Linked DNA regions of Homo sapiens. The protein of the gene in region 2 purifies or fractionates together with the protein of the main gene of each other region. This does not show direct contact. Each region holds a gene or a part of one and is shown on either strand. Other genes may lie near its edges. The genes, in order: WRAP73 and RD3L.

Region 1 (3,820 bases), on a different chromosome or scaffold from region 2:
CTCATGCCCCTGTGGGATGGGTGCTTTTACTATGCCCATTTCAGCGATGAGGAAACAGACACATAGGAAATGCCCAGAGTCAAGAGGCTGCATCAGAACCGGGCCTCAAGCCGGAGACAGCGCTCGGGAGCACCGCCGGGTTCCAGACCCACTCTGAGCGCCACCCACGGAAAAGTGTTTCTTTGAAAAACATCATTCTCGGAGCTCCGGAAAAACATCCCCTCGGAGCTCCCGCTGTCAGATCCGGGTCTCCAGGGCTCATATTCAGTAACAGAAGCCGCACCTTCACGGCCCACTGCGCAATTCAGACCCTAGTCAACCTCCAGCCAACAGGCTGAGGGGCACACTGGCTGGAAGCATGGAAGGGAAAAAAAGTTTTTTTTTTTAAACATAAGGAACATCCGAAGTTTATCTGGACAACGAGGAATCTTGCATTAAAAAAGGAAAACAAATGACATCACATGTGCTACTTACATTTACTCTCTGAGCTCGGGAGAGGGCCGGCCCCGGCCCGGGGCGGCGGGAAGGAGAGGCAGCCCAGTCCCAGCTGTGGGCTCTTCTCGGCCTCCTTATACACCACCTGAAAGACACAAGGTGGCCACGCCCGGCTCAGGACAGGGACCCGGAAGCCAAGGATGGACGTGGCAAATGCCCATGACAGCGCATGGTCAACAGGTGTGCCTGCCATGACAGCTGGTCCTGCTGCCACCGGGAGAGACGGAAGCACGAACCCCGCAGTCCCGAGAGCTGAGATCACCCAGCCACCCTCTCTCGTGTCCTGCTGAGGAGCCCACCCTTTGAGACACAGGCAGCAAATGTGTGCCCTGTGATTACAGACGGGAGACCACTGCAGCCACCATCATCCAGCAAGGGAGTGGGCTCAGCCTTCCCTCCGTGATAAGAGGATACAGAGAACACTTGCACCAACACAGCAGAGGCCCCGGGAGCAGCAGACACAGACCCGAGGTGGGGGCATCTGTGCCCGAGAGCCTGGCAAGCAAAGGACAGCGGCCCAGGCTCAGTGGAAGGCGGGCAGCCCCTACGCCCCTGAAGAGCCCCAGGTAAGGGAGTCACCTGGCCTGGTTCATGCCTTTAAAGCATGCTCTGCTGCTGTGTGGCGAAGGGATTTGGAGAATGCAGGAATCACAGGCAAACCTTCAGGACCTGTGTGGCCAGCCCTGCTCGGGCTCACCTGTCCAGACACCCTGGCCTCCAGCCACACAAGCCACTGGCCACGTCAGGAGGCCCCTCTGCCTGAAACACCCTTTCTGCCCAGACACCGCGCAGCTCCTCCTCCTGGTCTTCACTTAAACACCCCTCCAGGATGCATCCCCGGCAGTGGCTGATCTGGCATGCGCAGCCCCAGCCACTCACTGGCCTCTTCATCGAATCCAAGCCGCCTTTCACTCAGCTCTGTCGGTTACAGGTCAACACCAGGAGGGCAGCATTTGTCTCTGGCTCCCAGCGCAGTGCCCGCTGCACACATGGATGCGTGGCCCACTCCTCGGGGCCTTTGCATTTCCTGTTCCCTTGGCCTGGAACGCTCCCTCCCCGAGTCCCTGATCACTGGTGCAGCATCTGTGCCTGCGATCCCTCGCTGGTGGCCACTCCCTGCCACCCCGTGGAGACACCCAGCTCTCCAGCCCCTTCCCTGTCTCTCCAGCCGCACTCTGCAAGTGCAGGGGTCTGTCTCTTCTTCTCTGGCTGCGGCCCAGAGCACAGTGCCTGGCACGACAGCAGATGCCCAGTGTTTGGGGGCAGGAGACCCTGGCCACTCTGTACAGCACAGGGATCTGCATCCAGACAGACCACAAAGGAGAAAACTGGACTGGGGTGGCAGCGGCAGAGGACAGGCCAGGGCAAGGCCCACTTCAGACCCTTTGGGCAGCGTGGAGGAGGAAGAACAAAGGCCAGGGCAGGGCCAGACGCGTGAAATGTCACAGTAGCAAGTTTACGGTGATGGAAGTGCCCGGTTAAATAATAAACCACAATCAAGAAAGCAAAGTGAAGGAGCAGTTTCCCACCGCCCTCCCCAACAGCCTGCTCAGGCAGAAACACGTGTTCCAGACTTACTATCTTGGGATCATTAATGGCTGCAGGATGCCCAAACTCCGTGATCATTTTCCAAGTCACGTGATTAAGGATGCGCACCTGAGGAAGGAAACCATGCACAGGTGAGGCAGGGCCCGGCCCGCTGGGCGGTCGGACTTCCTGAGTGCCCTGCACTGGTTCCCACCTTTCCATCATAGCTCCCAACTGCCAGGAACTGACTGCTGGGGCTCCAGGCCACAGACTTGATGCCCAGGGACCACTCGTAAGCGCTGTACGTGGACAACAACCGGCCATCCAATGAGTACAGCAGAATCTTGTACTGCAGATGAGACATTTCAGTTAATAATGAATACACCCCCGTCGCCAGGAACACACCACAGACGCGGGTGCTGCAGAGTGACATTGGTGCAGATAGCACAAAGCTGGCAGGACTGTCCGCGTGGCCGTGGAAAAGCTGGAACTGCCAGCTAGTACTGAGATAGTCACGGAGAGGCAGTGAGAGCATGAGGAAAAAGGGGAAATTGGGAGGTCAACCTAATGGCTCGCTGATAAAAGTTCAACTCGGCCGGGCACTGTGGCTCACGCCTGTAATCCCAGCACTTTGGGAGGCCGAAGCTGGCAGATCACTTGAACACAGAAGTTCAAGAGCAGTCTGGGCAACACGGTGAAACCCCATCTCTACAAAGAATACAAAAATTAGCCGGGCGTGGTGGTGCATGCTTGTGGTCCCAGCTACTTGGGAGGCTGAGGTAGGAGGATCACTTGAGTCCAGGAGGTCGAGGCTGCAGTGGGCCGTGATCACACCACTGCACTCCAGCCTGGGTGACAGAGCAAGACCCTGTCTTTTAAAACAAAGCTCAACTTGTTATCTGAAATAAGATAAAGCAAACTATATTGCAGCATTCAGAAAGCATGAAATTCCGGGAAAAGCTCTCGAAAGCAAACATGTCACCTGGTCATCTTCATACCTCCAAGCAGGTGTCCCACACTGCCAGCACACAGCCGTTTGGGGCCCACTCAATCCCTGTGAGATCCTGGGTGTCCGTATCAAAATGCTTCCAAAGGAAGGGGGGGAAACATTAAATTTGGAAAATATTTTCGTAAATAAATAATTGCATTTATGACTGATGTTCTTAACGCACTTAATTTCCTTATATAGAAATTGACAAAATCTCAACAGCTCTATCCTGGAAATGCATGAAATCCCTGTAGAGCTGCTGCTGGGGCTGCACCGCCACAGATGCCAGCGTCAGTGCCTGGCCAGCCCCCAAGGGCGGCTTGGTCTCCCCGCGCCTGCACTCGTGTGCACACTCTCCCCCTCACCTTTCCTTGCCTGGCCAGCCCCCGAGGGCGGCTTGGTCTCCCCGCGCCTGCACTCGTGTGCACACTCTCCCCCTCACCTTTCCTTGCCTGGCCAGCCCCCGAAGGTGGCTTGGTCTCCCCGCACCTGCACTCATGTGCACACTCTCCCCCTCACCTTTCCTTGCCTGGCCAGGCTCACTCCTTTAGACCCAGCTCAGACAAGTCCCTTCCAGAGCACTGCCTGGATCCCGGGTTCTGCACTCTGACAGCATTCCAGAGGTTGCTCTACCTTAATGATGGATTGTGCTGGAATCGTGTTCATATGTCTGCTGTGGGGGCAGTGCCCTCTGTGCCTGGGCACCTGGCAGAGCGCCCTGCCTAATGCAGGCCCTCAGTCAAGGTGAACTTCCACGTCCCCCCAACTCCCGACGTGGCACACACATGCGCAAACACCATCACACAGGAC
Region 2 (4,179 bases):
CAGTGAGCTTCCTGCTTCAACCTCCTGAGTAGCTGGGACTACAGGTATGTGCCACCACACCCAGCTAGTTCCAATTTTGATACGTATATTTTTTTCTTTTTAGATGAAAGAAAACCAGTAAATCTTCAAATATAAAGTTATAATTAGGTTCCTTGGACTTAACTTTAAGAATGAATTGTATCACTTTATAAAAAAAATCTGACTAATGTATAATTTCCTACTTTTAATAAAGTTATGAAAAGCCAGATTTTGTATATTAAATATTTTGCTATTTCACCAGAGTATAAGTTTAAATTATTCACCAACAGTGAATGTTTTTCTTTGAGAGTAGCAGCTACTCATGTTGCTAAATCAGTCTATTTATCTTTACTGATAGAGCTGAGTTTTATTACACGTTCCCTTAATGTTGAGCTTAAAAGTACTGTGATTAAAACCAAAGCTGAGCGTTGGGTTAAAGCCCTGCTTCATTTTTAAACTGCATGATATTTTTTCCCTCACCGCCCTTCTCCCCATCCCCTGCTGAGAATGATCGTATAATGGGATGTTGACTTCTCATTTCTGTTATGTTGTAAAGATAGGATTCGTATTAATAATTTATTTAATTCTATATGTAGCTTCATTGTAGAATAAAAGTCAAGGTTAATATCTAAGTTTTGTACAGAATTTGTCAGACTTCATACTAAAGTTGCTTTAGTTCCTGTGAGGTGGGTTTGAGGTATAAGAAAATACTGCAAACATTTTTTCAAAATACTTAGGAAACATTTTAGTTAAAAGCATACTATTCAATGAAAACATAGCATGTTTAGAGTGGTTAAAAAAAGAACACTATTTAAAACATAGGCTACATCCACAGGATACTGACCTTGTAACAAAGAAAAACTTGAAGTCACATCACTTTTTCTTATTCTTAATATTAGGAGTTCTAAGGTGTTCATAAAAACCCCTCTAGTTGTAAGTAACTTAACTAGATGGGTGATAATATGGTAGGTTCCATATTCTGTGTGAGAACACTGGGAACCTGTCCTTTGTGTTTTTGTCTACGTAACTGGAAATGGTGGGTATTTCATCTTTGTCTGCCCTCTTGGAGCTGTCACCTTGGATCACAGAAGGAGCAGAGCAGTCCATGCTCCCTGAGTCCTCCAGGTCCTCTTGCTCACTCCCTCTGTCAGAGCTGCTTAGGAAGTCTTTCAGAACTTGCTTGAAGATGTAGACTATTTCCCATGGCAGTACATCATTTTCTGCCAAAACTTCTCGAAATCTAGAGGGGAAATGGTAATGAATATTCAGTTTAGAACATTTTTTGTTATATCTCTTTATCTCCAAAATACAGCTTGAATAATGTATACAAGTTACCCACCTTTTGAGTATTTTGCATGTTGTTTTAAAATTATGCTTCTAGTAAAGAAATTTTAAATGTAATTTAAAACAATTGCTCACCAGACATCTACACAGTTAAAGAATTTACATGATAGAATACAGTTTCTAGTCAAAATATATGAGGAACTTGGACTTAGCAGTAGCAGGAATCATAAGAGAACATAGTATTTTTACCTGCTGAGAATAGTTCCAGTTTGGCAAGGTTGAACTTGTGAGCAAAGAACTTCAAGTTGTCTTTGTTCAGTCACTGGGATAGTTGTGTGGGGATTCTGGTAGTTTCTGAGCCAGTTGTAATCCACACCTGTTTTTTTCACTTTTTGTTCATTTTCGATTTCTTGTATTAATCTCTCTCGCTCCTTTAGGTGCCATTTTAATTCCCGAAGCAGAGTCTTTGTCACTATGTCTGAGCCAGGATAGTGTGTGGGTTTGTAGGAATCGTTTTTGGGCCATTTCATCCAGCCAAAAAGTGGCATTTTTAGCCTATGGAAATATTTTCACTTGTTTATTTGCTCAAAATGTTATGTTCTTCTGAGCAAATATTTGTTTCTTTACAATAAATTTGCCCGAAAAGTGCACGATTTTTTTTCACATTTAGCTATGCAGGTCAAAATAAGATTAGAACATGGATTAACGTCTTAATTTTTAACTAGGTCAGTGGCAGAAACCAAGCTTTGAAAATGCTTTTATGTAGCTTAGCAGAAATTAGATATACAAAGTCAGAGATAACATATAGACTGAATGATATCCGAAAATAACACTAACACTTGCTGTGAAAAGTTCTTAAGAGACTTAAAATATTAATGTCGGGGCAAGTGCTGCCTACAGATACTTTTGATTTATGTTTTGGACAGAAAAGGTTTAAAGCTTACCTGTTAAGTTGATGGGCTGATGTGATGTTGCCAAAGAGTTGACTGAAGTTGGTGACGAAGCTGTGTTTCACTGGGACGTATCTTGCTCTCCTAGGTGTGTCCTCTGTAGAAGGAATGCGCCACCTTATTTACCCACCGAAACTGTATTTGAAATAAATAACTTTCTGTGTTAGGAATGAGGCTGTGATGTCTTCATTTGGAGAGAATGCTCATTAATTCACCTTGTAAGTAAGCTAGAAGAAATGACAAAAATAACTGACTATTTAATCTTCACAAGTTATATAATGGTCTGCCTTTTCAATGTAGCTCAGTCTATTTGAAAAAAATGCCAGCAGCTATAGATGCTGGTCCTAAATGCATTCCGACATGTCTTTGGTAGTGAAACGAAGAATGGTCGTCTAAAGCACCATAGATGCGCTCCGAGCTAGAGTGAAGACTGTCGCGTGATGTGATGCTTTGCTGTGCATAGCTGTAGGTCACAGTTTAGTGCTGTATTTTTATGCCTGTAGAGCTCTAAAAATAGCCACGTTGCTTTTATTCTTCAGCTTAACTTTCAGGCCATTTGGAAGCCGGGTCACTGTCCCCTCTAGTGAAAACAGGAAAAATAGATTAGACTTGACTATTTGCAAAACATACATTCTGAGAAAACTCATTGTAATTGAGTGAAATAGGTAAAGAATGCTGATGTGAATTATAATTGTGAAATATTTAGCAAATGTTACATTTTGTATTCATTTTGGTTTTTTCAAAATAGTTAAATTTGTATATTTAAGCAAGTTGAAATGCTAGGGGACATAATAAACAGCTAGATAACTTTAAAATATACTTTATAATCTCTGAAAATATGGTAATAAGGCAGTAATTGGTTGTCAGGGAAAAATAGAGGCATAAGAACATACAAAATTCTAAACAAAATCTTATAATTCATCGTAGAAAAATCATTTTCGTGTTTTTTTTTTGGAGCTGAGGATGAAAAACTTATATTTACTATTTAGGTGCATATTGGTTTGTAATGGTCATTATTGTGCTATTTCTTTTTTCTTTCTTTCTTTTTTTTGAGACAGAGTCACGTTGTGTCACCCAGGCTGTAGTGCAGTGGCATGATCACGGCTCACTGTAGCCTCGACCTCCTGGGCTCAAGTGATCCTCCCACCTCAGCCCCCTGAATAGCCAGGACCATAGGTGCATGCCACCACAGGTGCATGCTACGGCATGCCTGGCTAGTTTAAAAAAATATATACACACGCACATATGTACATACATATATGTTTTATATATGTACATATGTGTATGTATTTTATATATGTACATATATGTATATATACACATAAGTATATATACGCATATGTATATGTATTATATATGTATATATAAATATACACACATATATAATACACACATATATACACACACACATACATTTCTTTTTTTTTTTTTTTTGTAGAAATAAGGTCTCCCTGTGTTGCCCAGGCTGGTCCGTAAACTGGGCTCAAGTAATCCACCTGCCTCAGCCTCCCAAAGTGCTGGGATTACAGGCATGAGCCACTGCGCTGGCCTGTGCTAATTTCCTATGCAAGTGTTTGTCTTTTGCTAAAGAGTAGATAGTATAAAAGGTCTTTTACTCCCCAGTTCTCTGTGAAACGACTGCATAGTGGTTTTCCCTTTTATAGTATTTGTTTCTTCTGTTGCTTTTCCTTTCAAGTGAGCCATGAAGAGTAGACGTTGTTTACATCAGACTTGCATGTCATGCATGACCCAGAGTGACGTGTGTGGCCACCCTACAGCTCCTGTTGCTTAGATGTTAGAAAAAGCCAGATGTCAGGACTGATTATTGTCAACTGGAAGGTTTTCACATGACATTGCATATACTGTTAGGAGAAGGAAAGGAGTAAAGTTTATGATGACAGAAGTGTCCTACCAAATTTTATACTAA

The links.
Region 1: the proteins of RD3L (region 2) and WRAP73 purify together in Homo sapiens (co-immunoprecipitation; one large-scale study listed by IntAct). This does not show direct contact.

What each region holds. Positions count from the first base shown.
Region 1 is NC_000001.11:3,632,924-3,636,743, forward strand, and holds part of WRAP73 (WD repeat-containing protein WRAP73), read right to left. Parts: intron 3,108-3,820; coding exon 3,021-3,107; intron 2,372-3,020; coding exon 2,237-2,371; intron 2,152-2,236; coding exon 2,074-2,151; intron 581-2,073; coding exon 475-580; intron 1-474.
Region 2 is NC_000014.9:103,939,846-103,944,024, forward strand, and holds RD3L (protein RD3-like), read right to left. Parts: upstream 2,685-4,179; 5' UTR 2,247-2,684; intron 1,858-2,246; 5' UTR 1,851-1,857; coding exon 1,552-1,850; intron 1,259-1,551; coding exon 961-1,258; 3' UTR 581-960; downstream 1-580.